Homo sapiens: one gene and its partners. The protein of the gene in region 1 interacts with the protein of each later gene in a pairwise test. Each region holds a gene or a part of one and is shown in the gene's direction. Other genes may lie near its edges.

Region 1 (4,100 bases):
GAGACTCAAAGCTGGGAGAGGCCCTGGAGATTGTCCATGTCAGGGGAAGCACAAATTCAAATGCCTACAGAGGGCAGGCAGGTCACAGTGTGTTGATCAGGCAATTAGAGTGGCCCAGCTTATGGACAATTGGGAGTTCAAAGCCAAACTGGCCAAGTGAAATGATCCTAACAAAATCAATTAACAGCCTTTAAGTAGCCTGACCCCTTATATCTATAGATAAAGATATTAAGATTCTAAGAAGTGAGCTCATCTGCCTTGGATATACATGTTATCTTGTCTCCCTGTACCTTGGGGATTGACTGGAATATCTCATGGCCTGGTTCTACCTCTGACCTGTTGGGCCCTTGGCTCACCCTCATTCTCAGGGCCCATTAAGATTCTTCTGTCAGATGATAAGTTCCTTGAGGGAGCCATCTTGTTTTACTCAAATCTGAGCACATCACATCCATTGATATAAGGTTCCACATGCAGAGCAAAGACTGGATTCAGATCTCCTGTCCCCATTCCCACTGGGAATCCAGTGGGTGTAAACCAATTTTATTTTTTACAAAAAAGAGAAAATTCAACCATAACTTTTTGTTTCATCTAATGTAGCAATAGGGTTAGATGAGATAAGACTAGAAGCTCACATTGGATGTTTGCAGATTCCAAGGAACATCCAGAAAGCCCTGATGCCTGAGTGGGGATCTAAAAAGAGGGATGGGAACCCATCAAGGGGATAGAGGAACAGCAGACATTTATGGATGGAGTATGTGTATTTAGGAAGATGATGCTATTGGGTCCAATTATTTGAACACTGACCATAACACTCCCGTGCTTAGTCTTGGTCACCCTCTTATATCCAATGATCTGAGTTAGCAACTCATTACCAGCCAACCAGTTCACCACTTTCATTGATGACTGAGGTGGTAGAATGGACAAAGAAGACAAAAAGACAAGATCCCTGATTAGAAGTGCATGCCACCTTGTTATGTTATATTGCCTTAAAGAACCCAGAGCTGAGTTCTGGTGCCCCACCACCTATACCCTGGCAGTAGACAGATGTTTCCCATGATCTTCAAGTGTTGGCTTTGTCACTGCCTGGGTACAGGGTAAAAGAGACCATCCAGTGGCAGTAAACTCCTGTGTTCACTCACCTACTATGTGCCAGGCACTGTTCTAGGAGCCATGGATACAACAGTAAACAACACATGCCTCTGATCTCCCAGGATGGGGTAAATCAGCATGACTAAGGGTACACAATTATCAGCATTGCCTCAACATCTGTGGTGATTTACTGTGGTGTTTTTTCCCCTGTGGGTTTGTCTGGGGGACCTGACAGCTAATGTGGAGTTGTCCAAAGGACTTGGAGTCCAGGGTTTTGGGGGAGGGTGAGAGGGCTAGGATCCCATCACCTTAGCTGTTTCCTAGTTCCAAGTTCCCTCTCTGTGCCTCAGATTCCTCACTCATCAAAGCTAAACACCTACTTTGTACCTGTGGTGTAAATAGATGCAAAGCCAGGCTCCTGGAGATCTGGGCATCTGGAGCTCTGGGGATGCACAAGTGCTTGGAGGGAGTGTTACTTATACTTAAAGATCTAAACCCCAGTGGGTTCTGGGGACCATCTTTTGCCTCATTCAGTCACCTTGATCACTAGCTTGTCTTCATTTCGTGTGTGTGTGTGTGTGTGTGTGTGTGTGTGTGTGCTGGAAATAGTTACTTCTAATGAATGAGTTTTCTTTACATTCAGATCTTTCCATATGAGTTTACCTATCACTAAGTTGGCCTTAAATTTATGACAACACTTAACTAACTTGGTCTTAAATGTATGGCAAGAGGCCAAAGCAAATGCCTGGACTAATGGAATTTCATTGAATTGACAGAATTGAGCCCTTCATTTATAGCTTGTGTGGACAACACCTGGATTTTTCACTGGCATCGTGCTATACTTTTGCAAACCCCCCTCTCTGTGACTTTTGGTTTGATGACATCTGCCTTAGCTGAGGAGATGATCCTCTAATGGGTAATCTGGAACAGGATCTTCGTGTATGCCATTCTCTATTTCAGATGGATCTCCTCCAATACTCTCCTTCTGAAGAAATTTCCTTTATAACCAGCTTGAATGCTAGAAAATGGCAGGGAGAAGTTCCAGCTGAGAGTCGAGTTCTGAAAGGAAAGGGACAGAAGGGTGCTGAATGTTGTGTGGCTCTGCCATGATACTTCCCTTCCCTTCTGTTTTAGTGAGCATGAGAGATGAAACCCAAACCTTGCAGAATGGCCTCTCAGTCCTGATTTGAGTGGGGGACTCACCAGTGAGAAATTATTCGACTTGGTGGCTTCAAAGTGGAATAAAAAATGAAGATGGTTTTCTGTCCAATTTGCTGCTGGGCACAGGAGAGAAAGCAGAAGGAGGGACCTCTGGGATGGGGACTGGGTCAGGAGAGTTTAACCTTGAGCTCTCTTCTTGGCAGTTGGTCTGCTGATTCTCCTCCACTCTCTGACTTGAAATAGAAGGACAAGGATTCCATCGGGCTTTCCCTGAGTACATGAAAGCTTTAAAGGCAATGCTGTATGTGCTGAATCCCGCCATGACACTGTCCTCATTGTTCTGCGTTTAATAAGGATGACTTAATCAGACTTGCGCATGGAACTTGTTTGAATTTGAAGCCTTGTCGATATTATCAGAGTATCTTTCATTTGAACCAGAAATGTCCTGGCCAGCATCTTCTGTGATGGGAAAGGTTGGTACTTGAAGGATGTTTAGTGACCATCTGTCCTGCCAGTCCCCTGAGGATCAAATTACAGGTTTCAGTTACAGAGTGGGGAGGCTGGGTTAGAAATGAGGGAGGCTTTTCTGCTTGAGCACCTCTGCCAAACCACTGGGTTCTTCATCTGTGAAAGGGAGGTGTTCAGAAGAATCTTAAAGCCCTTTCTGGCCCTCAAGTCAGTGGTTTTGAATGGATATTGCAGTCGCTTCTTGATTTTCCAGGAGTGGCTCGTTGACTTTTCTGTGGATTCTTTGTGGGGAATGTGAGTCTCAGGATAGTTTCCAGTTACCATCCAACCCCCCTGTTGTTAACCCATCTGACCGACTGCCAGTCACTGCATCTTCAGAGAATGCATTTTCCTTTTTGCCTCAGCCTGAGCCAAATATCATCTGGAAGGTAACTCTGCTGTATATTGAGGCATACATGTGCATATAAACATACATACATATATGCACATATAAATGTAGATGAAAGGTATTCCAAATCTGTGTGTTACCGGCTGACCATTGGATTAACCGCAGTTCTGTCCGCAGTTTCGTTCCCTGCCAGAGCTGATGTAAGCCCGCCCTGGGAGGCAACTTTAGGGAAATGGCTTGCAGGGTAACAATTTAGATCCATCCCTATTTGCCAGTCCCACTGGTCTACCTGAGCCATAGCTCCCTCCCTACTGCCCTAGCCATTGTCCGGAAGGCCTCCCAAGAGCCCCCCTGTTAGGAATACAAAAGAGCTGCAGTTGGCTCTTAATTATTCAGGGACAAGTGTGTGAAGCACCCAACTCAGGCCTCTTCTTTCCCTGCTTTCGGTGCCTTGAGTAACTCTATATCTGTAGTGAGTAGCTGGGGCAGATCTTATCATTTCATACAAACTTTTGTTTCTAGCAGCCAGCTCCCTCTGCTTCTCTTCCCTCAAGGCGCCTGGGGGAAGCTAGGAGCCCTCTCTGAGAGGCCTCATCCACTCAAAGCAGACTGCTTTTAAGGTTTACACATTGCCCTGTTGGTTGGTGTGTATTTCTGCCCGAAAGCAGGACAGAAGAGGAAAATACCACTAGCTCTGGCTGATGCAGGGTCAGACCCCTGCAGATTTCCCGGGATCCGGGCTTTCTTTCCTTCCTCCTTTGGTAGAGCCTGGACTTTCAGTGTTTGGCATCAGGGATACCCTAGGTCCCATCAGGAGTCTAAGTGTAGAGCAGTGTCCTTGTGGTAAAAGCTCCAAACAGGCAAGGTCTAAAGAGCACTTACATGAATGTCCCCAAGGCTGAGGGTAATGTTTCTACATAGACCAGGTGCCTTGGGGCACATGCTCCCTTTCAACAGCTCTCCAGGTTCCAGAGTGAGACTTTCCTCACTTTCC
Region 2 (3,500 bases), on another chromosome or scaffold:
TTTATTTTAGGTCAACATTCAAACATACAAGAAATGTGTTGTTACAATTAAAATTTTTTTAAAAAGTAGTGGAGCATCATCTTCATCCCATCCCTCTTAAGCCCTGACTTGAACACCCTAAGAAACTTCTTGAATTATTCTGGGCTGGCCGCACACCTGTAATTCCAGCACTTTGGGAGGCCAAGGCAGGGGGATCACTTGAGGCCAAGAATTCGATACCAGCCTGGGCAACATAGCAAGACCCCCGTCTCTACAAAAGTAAGAAATTAGCTGGGCATGGTGGCACATGGCTGTAGTGCTAGCTACTCAGGAGGCTGAGGCAGGAGGATTGCTTGGGCTCAGGAATTCAAGGTTACTGTGAGCTATGTTTGTGCCACTGCACTCCAGCCTGAACAACAGAGTGAGAGCCTATCTCTAAAAAATAAAAAATTGGGGGAAACTATTGAATTATTTCATAGCTTTGTATTTTAAATTGTTTTATCTTTTAATTTTGACATAATTTTAGACTTGCAAAATAGTACAAATAATTTGTATATACCCTTTACTCAGATTCTCCAAATGTTAACTTCCTACATAAACACAATGCAATGATCAAAATCAGGAAATAACATCGATATAGTACTGTTACCCAACCTACAGACCTTATTTCAGTTTCACCAGTTGTCTCAATGATGTCCTTTTTCTGGTTCAGGATCAAATCCAGAATGCAATGTTGTATTTATTGTCATGTCTCTTAAGTCTCCTTTAATCTGAAATAGTTCCTCAGTCTTTGTTGTTCATGCCCTTGATGCTTTTGAAGAACACTGTCAGTTATTTTATAAAATATTTCTTAATTTGGGTTTGTCTGATATTTTCTCATGGTTAAATCCAGGTCATGCCTTTTTGGCAAGAGTACCACAGAAATGATTTTGTGCCCCCAGTGCATCATATCAGGAGACACTTATTATTGACTTATTCCATTACTGGTGATAATTAATTTTGATCATTTAAGTTGGTGCCTGCAAGGTTTCTCTGCTATAATGTTATAGGTTATACAAATATCCTGTTTCTTTATACTTTTGCCACCTAATTTTAGCACCCACTGTTGATTCTTGCCTGAAACAGTTACTACCATAGTATTTGCTAAATGGCAATTTTTAATTTTCATATAGATTTATTTCATGTATAATAATCAGGGTCCATATAGGAAATTAAGAGAGATTACTAAAATTATATTGCTGGTTTGAAATCTCACTGGGCATTCATGTGCTACTTCACTAAAGCCATTTTATATTCTTCTGTTTTTAAATCAAACATTGTCGCTCATCTCACACCATTCAGGGATCAGTCTTCTTTTTTCTTCCTATTCTACCAAAAAGGAAACTATAGTAAGATTGTGACTTTAATTTCACAAGTTTGGCCATCTTGTCTCCTGGAAGTTTGGTGTCTGGCTATCTGTTGGCAGGAGAAAAATCTGTCCTGAAGGGGGATAGGTCTTTCCTGTCTGTTCCATAATGAGCTCTGGTAATAAAATGCTCATATCCTTGCCTTAAAACCCAAACATTGGCCTTCTTACTTAAGATTGATGTCTGGGGAAGTCTTTAAGTTTCCTCATTAGAAACTTACTGGAAATGCTGACACGGATTTTATGCCTTTTATTTTCAGCCTGCCACAGTGACTCAGGTCACTCAAGGAACTATCCGACCAGCTGCCAACTTCGATGCTATAAGAGATGCAGAAATTCTTCGTAAGGCAATGAAGGGTTTTGGTAAGGAAAACAAATTTTTGTCTTTTTTAATAAGTTAAAGTAATCAGTTCTAAAGTAAAAATAAACCTTATCTCATAAACCCAAGTTTATGTGTCAGCCTGGGTGCGCATACCTGGATTTAATCTGATGTCTAGTGCCTTGTAAGCATTCTAAGAGATGACCTCAGGCTGGGTGTGGTGGCTTACACCTGTAGTCCCAGCACTTTAGGAGGCCGAGGTGGGCAGATCACCTGAGTTCAAGACCAGCCTGGCCAACATGGCGAAACTCCATCTGTACTAAAAATAAAAAGTAAAATAGTTGGGCATGGTGATGCATGCCTGTAATCCCAGCTTCACGGGAAGCTGAGGCAGGAGAATTGCTTGAACCTGGGAGGTGGAGATTGCAGTCAGCCTAGATCACACCATTGCACTTGCACCCCCAGTCTGGGTGACAAACTCCGTCTCAAAAAAAAAAAAAAAAAAAAAAGATGACCTCAAGCAGCACCTAGCATGTACTTTGTCCTTACTTAAACATGTGTGGTTCTTCCAGGGACAGATGAGCAGGCAATTGTGGATGTGGTGGCCAACCGTTCCAATGATCAGAGGCAAAAAATTAAAGCAGCATTTAAGACCTCCTATGGCAAGGTATGTTTTTCTTTCCTGGAATGAGCACCAGCAGTGGCTGGTAGACTCTGCATTCATGTCAGATTGGATACTATATTTTGATTAGTACCTGTGGTGCAAAAGAGGGACAACTAGACTTTAGAGACCTCAAGGGTACTGTATTCCCTATTTCTGTTTTTTGTTTTGTTTTGTTTTGAGATGAAGTCTCGCACCAACATCCAGGCTGGAGTGCAATGGTGCGATCTCAGCTCACTGCCGTCTTTGCTTCCCGAGTTCAAGCAATTCTCCTGCCTCAGCCTCCTGAGTAGCTGGGACTACAGGTGCACAGCATCATGCCTGGCTAATTTTTGTATTTTTAGTAGAGACAGAGTTTCACCATGTTGGCCAGGCTGGTCTCTAACTCCTGACCTCAAGTGATCCGCCTGCCTCAGCCTCCCAAAGTGCTGGGATTACAGGCGTGAGCCACCATGCCTGGCCTATTTCTCTTAAAAGGCTTTTTCATTCTAGAGTAGTCCTTGATCTCATAATCATACCTTACCCCAGTCACATATGTGATAGACATTCAGTAGAAAGTAGATCACAACTACAATCATGATCAAGAGGATGGTTCTCAGTCTTCTGCCTGTTACAGTGGGATTCAAGGCTTATTACATAGCCCTTGTTTATTCTTGGTCCTGGGCATCGCCTTCTGCTTCTCTCCCTTTCTCTAAACGTGTCCTATGTTAAAATTATATGGACTGAGCGTGGTGGCTTACGCCTGTAATCCCAGCACTTTGGGAGGCCAAAGCAGGAGAATTTCTTGAGGCCAGGAGTTCAGGACCAGCCTGGGCAACATAGGGAGACTTCATTTCCAACAACGATGACAACAAATTATATTAGCTGGGCGTGGTGGCGTGTGTCCATAGTCCCAGCTGCTTGGGAGGCTGAGGTAGAAAGATTGCTTGAGCCCAGGAAGTCAGGCTGTTAGTGAGCTGTGATTGTGTTACTGCACTGTAGCCTAGGTGACAGAACAAGACGCTGTCTCAAAAAAAAATAATATGGAAATGCTTGCCATTCTCTGTACACGCCATGATCTTTTATGCTTCTGTGTTGTGTACATGCCATTCTCCTGGCCTTGAATACCTTTTCTTTTTTTCATGGCAAACTTCTTT
Region 3 (2,850 bases), on another chromosome or scaffold:
GGTGATGTCAAAGGTATATGATACTTGAGGAAATCAGGCCAAGTGTAGCTGAGCAATTAATAAACACTCAAGTTTTTTTAGTTGGGGTCATGTCAAACCCTCACATGGTGGTTAAGTAGTGACTAACTGTGCATGTCCTTCATGGTAGGTGAGCACCAGTCTCCATGATCAAAAATGCCCCAGTTTCCTTTGAAAAAGCCACTAGTTCTGTGAATTGTCCTTTTCCCTCCTGCCCCTAACAGTCCTACCCCTCTAGCCTACATTAGCATATTTCTCATGTAATGTATTTTGCTGGTAAGCTCATCCATTAGCTGCGTCCTTCAGCTATTCCTTTAGATTGGAGGAAGTGGATATGAAGATGGATTGATTCAGCTCACCTTCCATGATTGCTTTTGAGGGAAAAGCTACAGTGGCCACATTTCAGATGTTCACTTTTGCAATTTGTGGAGGGTGGAGAGAGGTAGACTTTTGTTGTGTGTTTTATAAAGTACTCTCAGTAAGGAGTGTTTGAGTTGAAGAGTCATCTGATTCGAGGCCACTCATGTTCTTTGTAACTTAAACTTTGACCAAGAAATTCTTCACTTCTCACTTCTTCACTTCTTCCCAATATACAGTAAGTACGTGAGCCAGTCATCCATACACTAAGGCCTAGTTGAGAAAAACCTTTGATTCAGGATGGCTGGGTTACTAACCTTGAAATGTAAGAGATCTGGTTTTGAATGTAAAAGTTGCAACACACAAACGGAAGTCTTAAAAACTTTTTGCTCTGGTCAGTTACAGGTGGATCCCCAATAATCTGTTTTTGGTTTTCTGATGGAAATAATAGAATTAGGGGAAATCAAATCTGGTTGGTAGGTGTCTACAGTATTAGAAGAGGGTATAAGGGCACTGTTTAACACTAAGTTCTAATACTTCCAGAAACTGTGCATTCCAGATCTACATACTAAATGCTCTTATCATTTTGAAATGGGCTCTTGATTAATAGACCCATATTTTTTAGTGGCTTCTATGTTGTATATTTGTCTAAAATGAAAGCTCTTTTGCGTTCTAAAACTACAATATATGTCATCTTATTTTCCCTGAGTATCCAAGTATAGTGCAGATTCTATGTAAAACTACTAAATGACACTGGAATATGTTTAGTAGATTAGGGGGAAAAACTATAAAGGTTTATACAATTGTTTGTAGTTACATTTAGGATGGACTTATCCCTTTGGAGAAGAGTGAAGTTTGTTTTTTCGCCATGTGATGAAGACCACTGTGATTTTTTAAAAAAGTAGATAATACTTAAAATGGCGTAATAATTCTGCACTTGAATTTGTACTGTTAACAGCACATTTGGAAGATTTTAAAACTTTTTATTGTCTTATAAATAGCATTCACTTATTATTTTGGATATTTAAGGGTTCCATTAAGTTAACACTGTATTTGGACAAAGTGTGACCAAATTAGCCAGTCTGTTTTCTTCCATGTTTAATTAGAAGTGAGAGGTAGAAGTACTTCAAATTCAACAGGCCAGCAAGCAATCGGCTTAAAATTCCCTTTCTTAAATGTTGTGCTCTTATGTTCTCGGCTTTTTAATGACTTTATTTTTACAGTACTTGTTCAGTCACTTGAGATGAAATGCTTGGGGTAGCTTTTCCATCCTCAAACTTAATGTTTTTACTAGTTCATAGTGTTTGGAACAGTATATGCCAATCACTGAGACTGCATCAGAGTTTGCAATTTTGTATGTTTCATTGCCAAAGAAGGCTTAGTGGTTGTTGACTGTAGTATAAGTCAGCTTTCTGTAGCATAAGATTTGATTTTCCCATACTTACTTCACTTGTTATACATCACTGATTATTTGGGTTAAACTGGACTCATTTCAAGCAGTTTGCTTTTGTTCAAATCGTGATGAGAAACCTAATACTGTAATTTGATTTGAGCCATAAAACACATTTTAATATTAGCTTGTATTATAGTTATTAAGCTTGTTTTTGTGGAAAAAAACTTACTAAAACCTAGGTAACTCTAGATTAGGCCAGTTCAGGTGTATTTTGTATCTTAGTAATGGATCATATCGTAAAAATAGAGATAAGTTGGGAAGATATATTGATTATGCTGTTCTGTTGAGGGAAAGGTCATGTATTTAGAAATTTAAACTTTTGGTTATTGTGTTCACATCATAGTATTCAAGCATCATTTATAGTTTGGTTTTGAGAACTTTTCTGGTATTACGTTTATGGCAAATGTATAAAAGAAACAAGTTTTGGTTATATTTTTATATTTGTAAAGTAAGTTTGGTTAAAGTGATCACTGTTCTTTTTTTATTTTATTGTCATTTCAATAAAAAATATTTGAAAGAGAATGACTCTGTGATTGTTTTGGGATAGTAGTCCTGTATGTGTGGCTGCTGATCCTACTGTGCTAGTAGAAATCTTGCATGGTTCGTCACTGTGAGTGGCCGAGGGCCTTTAGGTAAGAGACAGCTTAGCATAATAGCAAGGGCCTGATGGCCTGGGTCACTGATGTTGCCCTCTCCTTGTGCCCCACACACTCCCTCCTCCCATTGTGTGTTAGCAGTGTTTCAGTTTCCTGAGGTGTGAAAGGGTCACTAGATTTGGAACATGAAGGCCACAAGTTAGAAGTTGCTACACAGTTGTGTTAACTGTGTGTAGTCCATATCATTGGGGACTGAGTCCGAGTTTCCTCATCTGTAAAGGGAGGGTTGACTCCTTTAGTTTTTTTTCTCAAACTTGCCTGGAATTCATAATGTTCTATGACACACACCATACCTGCTGCATATGTAATACTGTGTAATTCAATGTTATCTTAAATAGAAAGTTTACCCAAAATACGGGAATATAT

Evidence for each region.
Region 2: the proteins of SEMA5B (region 1) and ANXA7 interact in a two-hybrid assay, tested with the Homo sapiens proteins (one large-scale study listed by BioGRID and IntAct).
Region 3: the proteins of SEMA5B (region 1) and NUDT21 interact in a two-hybrid assay, tested with the Homo sapiens proteins (one large-scale study listed by BioGRID and IntAct).

Annotation. Positions count from the first base shown.
Region 1 is NC_000003.12:123,020,911-123,025,010, reverse strand, and holds part of SEMA5B (semaphorin-5B), read left to right. Parts: intron 1-4,100. UniProt on the Homo sapiens protein: May act as a positive axonal guidance cue.
Region 2 is NC_000010.11:73,386,559-73,390,058, reverse strand, and holds part of ANXA7 (annexin A7), read left to right. Parts: intron 1-1,644; coding exon 1,645-1,747; intron 1,748-2,275; coding exon 2,276-2,370; intron 2,371-3,500. UniProt on the Homo sapiens protein: Calcium/phospholipid-binding protein which promotes membrane fusion and is involved in exocytosis.
Region 3 is NC_000016.10:56,428,633-56,431,482, reverse strand, and holds the end of NUDT21 (cleavage and polyadenylation specificity factor subunit 5), read left to right. Parts: 3' UTR 1-2,350; downstream 2,351-2,850. UniProt on the Homo sapiens protein: Component of the cleavage factor Im (CFIm) complex that functions as an activator of the pre-mRNA 3'-end cleavage and polyadenylation processing required for the maturation of pre-mRNA into functional mRNAs.